Homo sapiens: one gene and its partner. The protein of the gene in region 1 interacts with the protein of each later gene in a biochemical or structural test. Each region holds a gene or a part of one and is shown in the gene's direction. Other genes may lie near its edges.

Evidence for each region.
Region 2: the proteins of IGFBP7 (region 1) and ISLR2 interact in a biophysical measurement, tested with the Homo sapiens proteins (one large-scale study listed by IntAct).

The regions. Positions count from the first base shown.
Region 1 is NC_000004.12:57,037,386-57,040,885, reverse strand, and holds part of IGFBP7 (insulin-like growth factor-binding protein 7 isoform 1 precursor), read left to right. Parts: coding exon 1-62; intron 63-3,500. UniProt on the Homo sapiens protein: Binds IGF1 and IGF2 with a relatively low affinity. Stimulates prostacyclin (PGI2) production. Stimulates cell adhesion. Acts as a ligand for CD93 to play a role in angiogenesis.
Region 2 is NC_000015.10:74,129,437-74,133,385, forward strand, and holds the start of ISLR2 (immunoglobulin superfamily containing leucine-rich repeat protein 2 precursor), read left to right. Parts: upstream 1-1,149; 5' UTR 1,150-1,185; exon of another isoform or gene 1,186-1,338; intron 1,339-1,379; exon of another isoform or gene 1,380-1,661; intron 1,662-1,770; 5' UTR 1,771-1,880; intron 1,881-3,310; 5' UTR 3,311-3,318; coding exon 3,319-3,949. UniProt on the Homo sapiens protein: Required for axon extension during neural development.

The DNA.
Region 1 (3,500 bases):
CCCAGGTGTACTTGAGCTGTGAGGTCATCGGAATCCCGACACCTGTCCTCATCTGGAACAAGGTCTGTGGCACAGACTTTAAGAGACATCCTAGGCTGACAAGCTTCTCTTGCACTGCACAAGGATGGTAAAACGTTAAATCCTCAGCCTGCTTTGTTGACTGCGGCTCCCGCAAGGTGAAGCCTTAGGGCAGTCATACAGGCCCCTCCCCTGGATTCATGGAACAAAAACCAGTCCCTGCCATGCTTTTGTTAGCAGCATCCTAGAATCTGAGAAACTGGAAGAACAATAATGCTGAACACCTGAACCCACCTTCAGGGTGTGTGTGCACCTGTGGTGTGTGTATGTGTGTGCATATGTGGGTGCGAGTGAAAGTGTGTGTGTCTGTGTTTGCGCCCTCAGTGGAGACAGTATAGCATAGGGGTTAAAAGCGTACGTTTCTCTCTTTCTGTCCCAAAATACCACCTCCAAGCCCCCACCAAGCTGTTTGTGATGGCATCAGTCTCCTCATTTAAGACTGAACATTTAGCTGATAATTTAGATCCTGTCTGCTTGGAGGCATTATTATTATTTTACTGGGAGGCTCGGCTAAGAAGGTAAAAGGACACAAAGCCCTGTAGCCTTCTCCTGGGAGCATGGATTATTTTTTCAGATTCCCTAAGTGCTGGGAGATGGATGAGTACATTTTAAGGGCACTTGGAAGTAGGATAGAAGGAATGAGGTGGGATCTATTCTCCTAAGTACCAAGGCTGTAGAACCATAAGTTAGGGACAGAGGAGACCACTCCAGAACAGAGCATTAAAAAGGAACAAGAGGAGGAATAGCAAAGAAAAAAATGTCTCCTTTCTGAATTTTGCTAAATGCTGGCCCCAGCCCCAAGTGGAAAAAGCATGATATTCTTTTAATAAATCAGCTTTGAAATGACTTCCCAAATGGAAAAAAAGAAAAAAAAAAGTGTGAGGCTGGGTGCAGTAGCACATGCCTGTAATCCCAGCACTTTGGGAGGCTGAGGCAGGAGGATCACTTGAGTCCTGGAGTTTGAGACCAGCCTGACCAACACAGTGAGACTTCCTTCTTACAAATAATTTTTTTAATTAGCTGGGCATGGTGAGGCATGCCTGTGGCCCCAGCTACTCAGGAGACTAAGGTGGAAGAACCCCTTGAGCCAGGAGATTGAGGCTGCAGTGAGCTGTGATTGCCCCACTGCACTCTAGCCTGTCTCAAAAAAAAAAAAAAAAAAAAGAGTGTGAATTCCTTAGCCAGGGTGGCTGAGTTCTCTGCAAGTCAGGGTTTCTCAGCCTCAGCACTATTGACATTTGGGGCCAGATAATTATTTGTTGTGCGGGCTGCCTGTGCTTTGGAAGATGTTTAGCAGTATCCCCAGCCTCTACCCACTATATAACAGTAGCATTCCCCCATCCCCCCTGTCGTGAGAATTAAAAGCATCTTCAGACATTGCCAAATGTCCCCTAAGGGTGTGGAGCTGGGGAATTGCCCTGGACTGAAAACCACTGCTGTTAGCCTCAACTCTGTTCTCTACCTTATAAAAGTAGCATGTAATTATCATAAAGATGAAATAAAGTAATGCAAGTAAAAATTACTTGATACATAGTTAGCACTCAGTAGACATTAGCTACTGTTCCTGGAAATTTTTCCCTTCAAGTGGCATTATCTTGTATAATTATCTTCATATTTGAAGGACAACATCATCTCAGCATGTATGGAGAAGGGAAAAGAAAACACTTATTTGCCATCAACTAACACCTCACAATTATACCATACACTTACGTTTTTGTCTTTTTTTTTTTTTTTTTTTTTTTGAGACATAGTTTCACTCTTATTGCCCAGGCTGGAGTGCAATGGCACCATCTCGGCTCACCGCAACCTCGCCTCCCGGGTTCAAGTGATTCTTCTGCCTCAGTCTCTCAAGTAGTTGGGATTACAGGCACCCGCCACCACGCCTGGCTAACTTTGTATTTTCAGTAGAGACAGGGTTTCTCCATGTTGGTCAGGCTGGTCTCGAACTCCCGACCTCAGGTGATACGCCCACCTTGCCCTCCCAAAGTGCTAGGATTACAGGTGTGAGCCACCGCGCCTGGTCGTTTTTGTCCTTTTTATACATTTTGAATTGCTGAGCCTCACAACTATCCTACGAAAAATAAAAATTAAAAAATTATCAAACTCATGCTACCAAAAAAGGAACTTAGTTTAAGTAAAAGGGCATAACCAGACATCCATTTTAAGCTGCCTTACTTCTCCAGCAAGCTCTAAGGTGGATGATAGTCTCCCTTGACTATTTTGTTTGCTCTCTGTGTGACCGGAGAAGCAACTTCTAGAACTCCAGGAGGACTGTGGCTCCCGCAGTCGGAGCTCTTTCTGTTGCAAGTTCTACCAGCCCATTTGAAACCAGCCTAGGCAAAACAAAAAGCGGGGCGGGATCCAGCCTCAAGGGCCCCTGCATCCAGGTACACACGCCATCAGAACTCTAACTCTTGACTCTTTGCTCTCAATATACTAGTCTCATTTTCTTCTGCTTCAGAAAGCTTCCTATGCAGTGGGAGATATCAACTCCACTCACATTTTTATTACAGCTTAAAGACCCCAGAGGAAAGAAAGGGCTTCCCTTCTCCCTGCTGCATTGTGAAAATCCCACGAAGGGCTCAAGCCCAGGTCGGGTCACCTGCTAAGCTCTGGCTCCCCCATGCGGCCGGAGGGATGCGGCCACTGACATTGGCACCGGCGTGAATCCGCCTGGTTTGTGTAAAATCTGGGAACAGGTACCAGAAAATGCCTGAGGTGGGGGTGATGGCAGAGGCAACACTACTATACCATCCTTTACAGTGAAGCTTCTCTTAAAGGAGCAATAAAATTTCACCCCGATCAGTTATGTTTTTAAGAGGAAGGCGGAGCAAGAGTAAGAGCAGAAATGCAGTCCGTGGATGGGTTCCCCTCCATCCTTACTGCAAGAACTGCAGGCGTTCCTCACTGCTAATTTGGAGATTGCTGGTTTGCTCAGGGTGTGGGGAGGTGGAGAAATAATGTTCCGAGGAATACCCATGAAAAGCTCCGTTGCAGTTCTCTACAGTTTTCTAGGGATACTTACACAATGAGAAGCGAGGGTCACCCAAGCGTCCTGGGGCATGTGACCTTATTGGCAAATCTTGGCAAAGAATAATTTCTTCAGTCCTTGCTCTACCCAATCCCAGCTACAGTATTCACATACCAGAGGAATACGTCTGCCTCGGGAATCTTTTCCCTTTTAGGACTGTACAGGGCAGATCCCAATAGACAAGGCCTCCCTGAGTGCTTGTCCTCAGGGCTAGTCAGAAACACCAAGGCAGTTGAGGCTGGTGTGGTGGCTCGCACCTGTAGTCCCTAGCCACTCGGGAGGCTGAGGTGGGAGGATCGCTTGAGCTCAAAAGGTGGGGCTGCAGTGAGCTATGATGGCACCACTGCACTCCAGCCTGGGCAACAGAGCAAGATCCTGTCTCTGAAAAAAA
Region 2 (3,949 bases), on another chromosome or scaffold:
CCCGGGGTGATGGCTGTGGGGCTTGGTGCTCCCAGAGAGCTCAGTGGCTACAGAATGGGTGGGGATTCTGCGTGTCTCCCGGAGCCTGAACCCCTTTCCTGGTTATGGCCGGTAGCTGTCTCCAGGGCTAACGTGGGCAGCGCAGGGGGGCGGAAACCGGGTTTTAGCCAAATGCCTCGACATCGCCGCGCCTCCGCCTCCTCGTCGCTGAAAGAAATGTCGGGGTTTCATCAGAGCTAGGGAGCGACAGTCGGGAACAGCGAGTCTGCCGAAGCCGGCTGTTGTGTGAGGGTGTGAGACGGCGGGGCGGTGAGGGGCCACCGCGGCTTGGGGGATAGTGCGTGTGGGGTTGACCGTGTGTCTGCTTGAGAGGCTGTGAAGATATGGGGGGCAGATATGGGAGAAATGCTCGGGCCTGAAGTCCCCAGCCCACCGTGCTCAAGAGTAGCGGACGTTTTGCCACCATCCTTGTCTGTGCTACTGTCTGCTGCAGCTTCCGTGCCCCGTTCTCCTGGAGCAGGCAAGACCTGGAGTGAGGTGCTTGGGTGCGCTCGAGAGAGCTTCCCCCTGCTCCACCTGTCCCGCGGTGCGCGCAGGCCAACGCGTCGGGCAGTGGGCTTCAAGCGCTGGTTTAGCCACAAAAGACCAGAAGTAAAGAGTTCCGGCTTAAGAGGCTGGGCAGGGCTGCGGTGGGCTGGGGAGGGGGGTGTCCCTTCCCAGCACGCCCTGCAGGGCTGTGCGTTCTGGTGTCGGGTTAGACTAGCAGGCGGGGCGGGGGGGTTGGGGCGGCGGGGCGGGGGAGACTAGGGCTTATATCAGCCCAGATCCAGGCAAAAATGGTAGGGAGGGTGCGGCGCTCTGCTAACACTATCAATTATGCATCATGTTGAACGTGGCTTCGGGGAGGAGGCGGCTAGCAGCGGGGGGTGCGGGAGGGAAGGGTCCGCGCGAGCTCGGCTGCGCGCAGCTCAGCGGGTCCCGCTCGAAGTCTGTCGGTGCCACCGCCTGCATTTGCAAAAAGAGTTTAAAGGCAAAGACACGCCTTCCCCCCCCACTTCAGCCGCGCGCCTTTCCTTCCCCCAAATTCCTCAAAGATGGTTTGTCTCACGTGTTGCAGGGCGTAAAAGCGGCTTGCATTCAATTAGCAGCGAAGCTCGCGGGCGCTGGCGGGACAGGCGCGTGAGGGTGAGTTCGCGTGAATGTGTGTATGCGTGTGCGAGAGGAGAACGGTAAGTGTCCCGGGTGCAGGTGTGCCCGTGAAAATGCGTGTGAATGTAGCAGGGGCTGAACACATTGATGCGATTATTACCTGACCATGGATGATTGTAAACTGTGAAGGTCGGCTATGGGGAGGGTGTGAGGGACTGTGTGCGCGAATGTGTTTGAACGTGGGGTGGGGGAGGTGGTGTGATCAGGGACAGTAACAATGCCAGCGGCTGTGTAAATGTGGGGGTACGTGGGTTATGGGGGTGCAGTAGGCTGCGAAGAGCCCAGCCAGGACAGTGGGCGTGGGATGCCCCTTATGACCGACGTGTCTTGGCCTTGGGGAGGGTCTCCGTGGCTTTAACAAAAGTAGACCAAGCAGGAGGCGGGAGAGGCTATGCGCGTCCCCGCCAGGCCCGGGAGTGCGCAAGGACTTTCTCCAACCTGCAGCCAGAGAGGTGGGGGAAACGGACGCAAAAGGAAAAATTGAAGTGGTACTTTGGGGCCACCAAGTCCCCAAACTTACCTGTCCCTTTCTTTGCCCCCCGCCCCCCGTTTTCCCCACAGCCACAACACATGCGTGTATCTTGCTTGGGCTATCTTCCCTGCTCTGCCACGCCGGGTCTGGAGAAGGGGTTTCAGCCCCAGGACATTTACTGAGAGTCGGCGAATATTGGGTAAGCAATGGGGGCCACCCCACAACCTTGACCCAGGTGGGGTTAGGTCCAGCCTAGGGCACCTGATGGGGTGCGGGGCTGGTGGGGGTGCTGTCTGGCAGGAACCGGGAAGGGAGGGAAGGGACCCTCCCAGAAGAGCAAAGGCAGAGTGAAGGAGCAGGTTCCCAAAGACAAGTTGTGGGAGGGGCTCTGCCAAACCTGACAGGCGCTCCAAATGGGGGCAGGGAGTCTGTGCAAGTTCGTTTGTGTGACCGGGCTTAAGGTGTTATGGGGAGGGGGTCCTTAGGCACCGCAGAGCTGTGGAGAAAGGCGCAGAATCTTTCATCTTCTCCAGCTTCATTAGCTAGTGGCAGCCCCATGACCTGTTGGCTGAGGACGCCTCTGCCCAATGGGAGCCGCCTGAGGGACCTGAGAGGAAGCTCTAGTGACCGCTTTCCCAACACACCTGGTCCAAACATGGGGGAGAACCTCCTTCCCCGTAAGGAAGGTTGGCAGAGCAGCCCTTCTTCTCCCCTCACAGGAGCTGCAGCCCCGGGCAGGTGACTTTGGCCTTAGATGCAGTAGGGCATGGGGATGGGCTTCCCCAGATCCCACATCTCAAGTCGTGCAGTGCAGGTCCTCCTATTGCTTCTCTGCTGGGTTTCGGTCACAGTGGAGGGCTGTATGCACACACAGGCACATGCCTGTGTTCTTGTGGGTGGGTCGGTTCGTGTGAGGACTTGTGTCCTTGTGTCTGTCAATTGTCACAATGGACAGGAAAGCGCTTTGTACCGTGGTGGAAAACACGTACAAATGCTGGTTAAGAGAACAATGAGGTCTGCAGGGTCTATTGTGTCCATGTCTGGGTGCATATGTGTTTGTGAGTTTAGGAAATGTGTTGTGAGCCTCCTAATTGAGCATCAGGTCCTCTAAACCCCTGCAGAAGTTGGCGGTTTGATTATGAAGCCCCGCGTCTGTTTGTATTGTTGTGTGCCTGCATGGGCGTGTGTGCGAGTGCTGTGCGTGGGACAAAGGTTCCAGGGAGGACAGCCAGTCACGGACAAAAATGTCCTTCTTGGGTAGGATCCATTTCACCAGGTTAAACGAAGGCTTAGAAACACAGAGAGGGGTACGTGAGGAGCCCGCTGGAGATGGGCGAGCTGCGGAGCCCACGGAGGGGCCAGCTCCAGCGTGAAGGAAGGAGTAGGAAGAGAAAAAAGGGCGATATACCGGGCCGCTGGAAAAGGAAATTAGGGCCCTGGGAGGGAGCATCCGTTGAACCTCGAGATTTTTATTGACCTTCACTTCAGAGAGGCTCCTGGCCATAGAGGAGGTTACCGGAGCCCTGGAACTAGTGCTAAACGGGCTTGCGGAGGCACAGCTTGATAGGGGAGGTAAGCTGGGGTTCAGTGAGTCACCTTCTTTCTTCTTCACCTGGCTTCCATCTGCAGGAGCCGCGATGTTCCCCCTTCGGGCCCTGTGGTTGGTCTGGGCGCTTCTAGGAGTGGCCGGATCATGCCCGGAGCCGTGCGCCTGCGTGGACAAGTACGCTCACCAGTTCGCGGACTGCGCTTACAAAGAGTTGCGTGAGGTGCCGGAAGGACTGCCTGCCAACGTGACGACGCTTAGTCTGTCCGCGAACAAGATCACTGTGCTGCGGCGCGGGGCCTTCGCCGACGTCACACAGGTCACGTCGCTGTGGCTGGCGCACAATGAGGTGCGCACCGTGGAGCCAGGCGCACTGGCCGTGCTGAGTCAGCTCAAGAACCTCGATCTGAGCCACAACTTCATATCCAGCTTTCCGTGGAGCGACCTGCGCAACCTGAGCGCGCTGCAGCTGCTCAAAATGAACCACAACCGCCTGGGCTCTCTGCCCCGGGACGCACTCGGTGCGCTACCCGACCTGCGTTCCCTGCGCATCAACAACAACCGGCTGCGTACGCTGGCGCCTGGCACCTTCGACGCGCTTAGCGCGCTGTCACACTTGCAACTCTATCACAATCCCTTCCACTGCGGCTGCGGCCTTGTGTGGCTGCAGGCCTGGGCCGCGAGCACCCGGGTGTCCTTACCCGAGCCCGACTCCATTGCTT